2 separate regions of the Homo sapiens genome follow, and region 2 is linked to region 1. The links come from fine-mapping of genetic effects on gene expression. A gene starts in region 1. The other region holds a variant in brackets. All regions are shown on one strand. Distances are between the middles of the regions. Region 1 holds the start of IL17RD (interleukin 17 receptor D). Region 2 overlaps IL17RD (interleukin 17 receptor D).

Evidence for each region. PIP is the estimated chance that this variant, and not a neighbour inherited with it, causes the effect.
Region 2: its variant is fine-mapped to the expression of IL17RD in iPS cells (HipSci, PIP 0.95).

What each region holds. Positions count from the first base shown.
Region 1 is chr3:57,164,101-57,167,010 of GRCh38, reverse strand. IL17RD (interleukin 17 receptor D) reads left to right here and starts at 1,658. Exons shown (of 13, transcript NM_017563.5): 1 at 1,658-1,850. The coding sequence starts at 1,725. RefSeq lists silencers at 1,470-1,519, 1,540-1,879.
Region 2 is chr3:57,124,751-57,127,660 of GRCh38, reverse strand. All of the region lies in intron 1 of IL17RD (interleukin 17 receptor D), which reads left to right. Among named protein-coding and RNA genes, the nearest start is that of IL17RD, 39 kb to the left of the region's middle. The variant A/G (reference allele first, on the strand shown) is at 1,377.

The sequences.
Region 1 (2,910 bases):
CCAAGACTTCTGCTAGCATTACCAAGAAGAGTTCTCTTCCTCCACTTAAGCCCTCCAAGGACGTGTGGGCAGGGTGGTGGAGACACAAGCCACAAGAGAAAGTGCAGGAATCCTGTGTTAGCAGTGGCTGAGCTTAGGCCAGGCCAGAGAAGGAGAGGGAGGGGATTCTGGGCCCTGGAAGGAGAGTCATATAGAGGAGGCTGCCCTGTTGAATGGACGGAGGTGACAATTTCCAAGGTTTCCTGAGGCAAAAAGACCAAGATAAGGCTGGGGCTGGGGGGAGTTCTGTGCAGCAGGAGCCAGGTGGTAAAGACAGAGTGGAAGAGAAAGCCAGTATGGATTTTATTCTAAATGGCCTTTGCATAAGAGCCACCATAGAACAGTTTTATTTATTGATTTTATTTTTATTAATCCTCCTCCAAACACAGAACACATAATTTTACTGTTTTTTTTTGTTGGTGGTGGTGGTGGTAGGTTTGTTTGTTTGTTTGTTTGTTTGTTTGTTTTTAGAGACAGGGTCTTACTGTGTCACTCAGGCTTCAGTGCGGTTGGCAGGATCATAGCTCACTGTTACCTCTAACTCCTGAACTCAAGCGATCCTCTAGGATTGGCCACTGCACTCAGCCTAGAGTTTTAATTGGGATAAGTCAGTAGTCTGATTTGTGTTTTTGGAAGATAACTTTGGATCCAGGCTGGAGAAATGTATCGGACACGGGGACAAAGTCAGAAGTAGAAAAAGCCCTTAGGAAGAGGAGGTGGTATTCTTGAGGAAGGGGGTAGTGGAGAGGGACAAAGTGGGAGAGTTTAGGTGCTCAGATAAAAGGCAAAGCGCTGGGAAGAGTGCGGTGAAACTCTGGATAGCTTGGGCTACTCCACTTCTCTGAGCCTCAGTTTCCTCTTCCAAACAGAAATAATATCCACTTCATGAGGTTATGTTTGACAAGTGTAGTAGCTGAGAGTATTGTTTTTAGTCAGGTCTGGATTGGATCTCAGGTCTGGCAGGTAACAGCTGTGTGACCTTATGAGAGTCAGTTAATGATAGATTGTAGCCTTTATGGAGCACTTGTTATGTTTCAACCAACAGAACTCTCCCCAGACTAGGATACTTATTCTAGCTTCCAGGAGGGTGAGGGGGACGGGGGGTTGTGGTGAGGAAGTATTGTGGAGACAGCAAGCCTTTTGTCCAAAGTCCTACTAGTAAATGTGGAGCCAGGATTTCTCTGTCACGTTCCCCTAACTTTTCTGCGCCTAAAACTGGGATAACAATAATACACTTCCTTGTGTGGTTGGGCGTATACAGAAAGGGGTCTGGCACATAGCAGGTGTTTATTAAATTATTATTAAAATTATTATTATTACATTCTTTGTGTTTTCCTCAGGTTTTGCATAGAGTGAGCATCACTTGGACAAATCCTTTGGATTAAAAAAAGATCTACTAAGTGAGGGGGAAGAAACTGCGGCTGCCAGAGTCTCAGTGGGGGCTTGGGGGGCGTGACCAGAGGGGCGTGGTCTACGGGGGCAGGGCCACAACTGGAGGGCCAGGCTGTGGGGGCGGGGCCAGCACACGAGGACTGAGGGTGGGGGCGGGGCCCGGGCTGGCAACGCATGCCCAGTGCGGTCCCCTTCGCTGCCGCCGCGGCCGCCGCGGCCACCGCCCACTCGGGGCTGGCCAGCGGCGGGCGGCCGGGGCGCAGAGAACGGCCTGGCTGGGCGAGCGCACGGCCATGGCCCCGTGGCTGCAGCTCTGCTCCGTCTTCTTTACGGTCAACGCCTGCCTCAACGGCTCGCAGCTGGCTGTGGCCGCTGGCGGGTCCGGCCGCGCGCGGGGCGCCGACACCTGTGGCTGGAGGGTAAGGCGAGGGCGGCGGGTTTCTTGCCGTCGCCAACTCGCGGGGGACGCAGCGCGCACAGGTGCTCGCGGGGAGGCGAGCCCGCGCCAACCTGTCTGCTCTTCGCGGGGTCCGCGGCCGGCCTGGGTCTCACTCCTCCCGCGCATCCTCCTGGTTTCCCTCCCCGGACGCGTGTCCTCCGGCCCTGGCCGAGATGAAAGCGGCTGCCCGACCCCGGCTTTGTGTTGCTAATGAGGTGCGGCCGCCGGCCGGGGTCCCATTCAGAGGGCGGGCGTGAGGGGCGGCGGGGCTGGGCCGGGCGCCCCACCCTTTGTTCTTGGCCCGGGACCTCCTTCGTCCCAGGGCTGCGTGTCCCGGGCTGGGATCCCCCGAGCCACCCGGACCGGGTTGCGCTTTGGAGAGGGAAGGGGGTATTCTCCCGGACTTTCAGTCCACAACCCTGCTAAGGCCCGGGCGGCCGGAGAGGGGACTTGGAGCACCGGGGAGGGATGCGCCCCGCTCTTCTAGTAGCTTTGTTCCTCCTCGCCTGGGGCCGTCACCCCACTCCTACCCCTCCTCTGACTCCGGGACCTCCTGAGAAACTTCGCCTCCCGGTTCAGCCCTTCGTCTTGTGAAGGTCTCGCGGCTGATATCCTCCTTCCCTGCTTCGAGTTGCGGATATTTTTCCGCCAAAGGGCCGCGTGGGTGTCATCTGGGTGAGGTGCCTGAGACGAGACTGGAGAGGTGCCCAGACTTTCGCCGTGTGCATTGAGCCGTCTTCGTGGAACCGAGCGCTCCTTTGACACTGTCTGGGCGATGGGCGCGGGTGATTGCCATTCCCCTCTCAGCTTCCCTGCTCCCTACCTGGGCTTCTGGCCTTGGGCGGCCCCAGAACCTGGAGATGATGTCCGTCTGCCCCGAGTCTCCCACCGAGGCCCGGGTGGGCCCGGCGTCAGGGCACTCACGGCCTTAAGCTTGTGGAGAAAACGTAGGCTTTGCACTCAGGCAGCAGGGACATGACCTTGGCTCTGCTCCTGGGGAGCCATGAGCCTCAATTTCTTCATATGAAAAATGGGATGAA
Region 2 (2,910 bases), 39 kb after region 1:
CCAAGGCGGGCAGATCTCTTGAGATCAGGAGTTCGAGACCAGGCTGACTAACATGGGGAAACACCTGTCTCTACTAAAAATACAAAAATTAGCCAGACATGGTGGTGGGCGCCTGTAATCCCAGCTACTTGGGAAGCTGAGGCAAAAAAATCTCTTGAACCCAGGAGGTGGAGACTGCAGTGAGCCAAGATCACGCTATTGCACTCCAGCCTGGGCGACAAAGCAAGACTCTTATCTCAAAAAAAAAATATATATATATATATATTTATTTATTTATTTATTTATATATATATATTTATATTTATATATATTTATATATATTTTTATATATATTTATATATATTTTTATATATTTTTATATATATTTATATATATTTATATATATTTTTATATATATTTATATATATTTATATATATATTTATATATTTTTATATATATTTATATATATTTTTATATATATTTATATATATATATATATGAGTTGGCCTTAGTTTTAAGTAGTTACTAGGTGTACCTTTAAAAAAACCCATCTTCCGGCCGGGTGCAGTGGCTCATGCCTGTAATACCAGCACTTTGGGAGGCCAAGGCGAGTGGATCACCTGAGGTCAGGAGTTTGAGACCAGCCTGGCCAACATGGCAAAACCCTGTCTCTACTACAAATACAAAAATTAGCCAGGCATGGTGGTGGGCACCTGTAATCCCAGCTACTCGGGAGGCTGAGAGGGTAGGATCACTTGAACCTGGGAGGCGGAGGTTGCAGTGAGCCGAGATCTCACCACTGCACTCCAGCCTAGGCAACTAAGCAAGACTCCGCCTCAAAAAAAAAAGTCTTCTCAATTCTTTGTGCAAATGCTCTTATTTAAATTTTCACTCTAACTCTGTTCACTAAAACATTACTGGCTTTCTGAAAGTTCCTTACTTGATTTGAAAGTTTGGCCTGCCTTCCACTGGAAGAGGGGCGCTATATTTAGCACAGTTCTTGAAATGCATTTTTCCAAAATGGCAGTTAAGCTATGCTGGAGGTGAATTGGAAATGTTGCTCTGGGAAGTTAGTGTCTTCAAATGGCTTAGAATGCCCAAAGGCCCCTCAGGAAGTTGGCTGTCTGATCACCTTCATGGCTGCCCCTAGCTGCTGCCTGTGGATCCTGCTCCGCTGCCGGCCTCTCTGTATCCAGGCCTTTGCTTCTTTGCCATATATGGCTGGAGCATGGTGTGGGTTTTTAGCTTTTGAATTTTATTCATTTAGAGCACTTAAGGGTTATCCTCCCCTCCCTTCCTGAGTTAAAGATGTTTTCTCCATTATGTTGCCATTTGCTGCTTCCGTCCCTACTGACCATAGAGCACCAACCAAAGGAATTTCATAGCAGCACTCCAG[A/G]CAGCCGGGGCTTGCTGCTTAGCTCCCTTTGGAACAAATTAAAAGCTACCCGTTAGTGCAGCAAATGGGGGTGCTTAATTAACTAAGAATGTGGCACCCTGAGTCCACTGCATTGGCATTTATAGTTTTCAAGTAACAGGCAACAAACAAGTATTTTTAATCGTCAGCTCATTAAATATCAAAAATGGTATAGTAGCTAAAAGCTTGGGATTGTTTCTTGAAGAACAGTTTACAAAGCTGGTCAACAGCCTTGTAAGTTGCCTTATCTGTTTTCTCTTAGTGTGGGCCCTCATTCTAAGCCCATAAATCAGTGTAACACCAAGCTAGGTTCTTGGGGTATATTACTTGGCTTAATAATGCATTCATTTATTCAGGCAGAAAACTTATACTTATCAAGGACTATGTGTCAGGCCCAGGACTGTAGGCAGGGGTTTTGAGGGCTGTCCTCCTCGACTCTGTCTTCAGCCTCTCCTTTTCCAATCCAACCTATGCCCTTAACAAAACTGGAGTTACTAGGCCTCCTTGACCATCTGTTGAATGCATTTTAGTCTGGTGATCAGTGCCTACCAATACCTTGCCCTGACCTGTCTGTCTGTCTTATCTTCCACAATCCTCCAAGGTTCTGGATGCAGAAGACAGATCACTCCTAGGAAATGCACCACCTGTGACCTTTCTCCAGTCTTCCTCATTATCTCTTTGTAACTTGTCCTGCAGTACAACTCTCACCTGCTTATTGAGGCAGTAACCTTCTTGGGAAGGATGACCTAAACATTTCTGAGGTTATTGTGTGTCAGATGCTATGCTGAGCACTTGATATATGTCATCTCACACAATGCTTTCCACAAAGTTTTATTCAAACACTTTTTTTTTTTCTTTAGAGATGGAGCCTCACTCTTTTTGCCTAGGCTGGAGTGAAATGGCGCGATCTTGGCTCACTGCAACCTCCACCTCCCAGATTCAAGCAATTCTCCTGTCTCAGCCTTCCAAGTAGCTGGGATTACAGGCACCCACCACCACGCCTGGCTAATTTTCGTATTTTTAGTAGAGGCGGGGTTTTACCATGTTGGCCAGGCTACTCTCAAACTCCTGACCTCGGGTGATCCGGCCGCCTTGGCCTCCCAAAGTGCTGGGATTACAGGTGTGAGCCACTGCACCCAGCCTATTCATATACTTTATAGCTCAGGGAGGTTCAGAAATTTACCCAGAGTCACACAGCTGGAAAGCTGGTGGTTTAGACACACATCTGCATAACTCCAAAACCAACTGTCTTAACCACTTTTCTACTTCTGGGGGTCAGCCCCAGGTCAGCCCACAGAAGCCTACATCTAGGACAGTAGAATCTCAAGCGGCAGCTCTGATGGGTGCATGTTCTATGCCTGCCTGAAGCTTGGGTTGGGGAGAACACAAGGACAGGGATCAGCTCCGGGTGTTGGGGGGCAGGGTGGAGGAATGACAGCACGTGCCGTGTGTGTGACATGGAGGTCTATTTTATCCATATTGCAGCTGAAATTATATGAGTGTATATTAGCTTTCA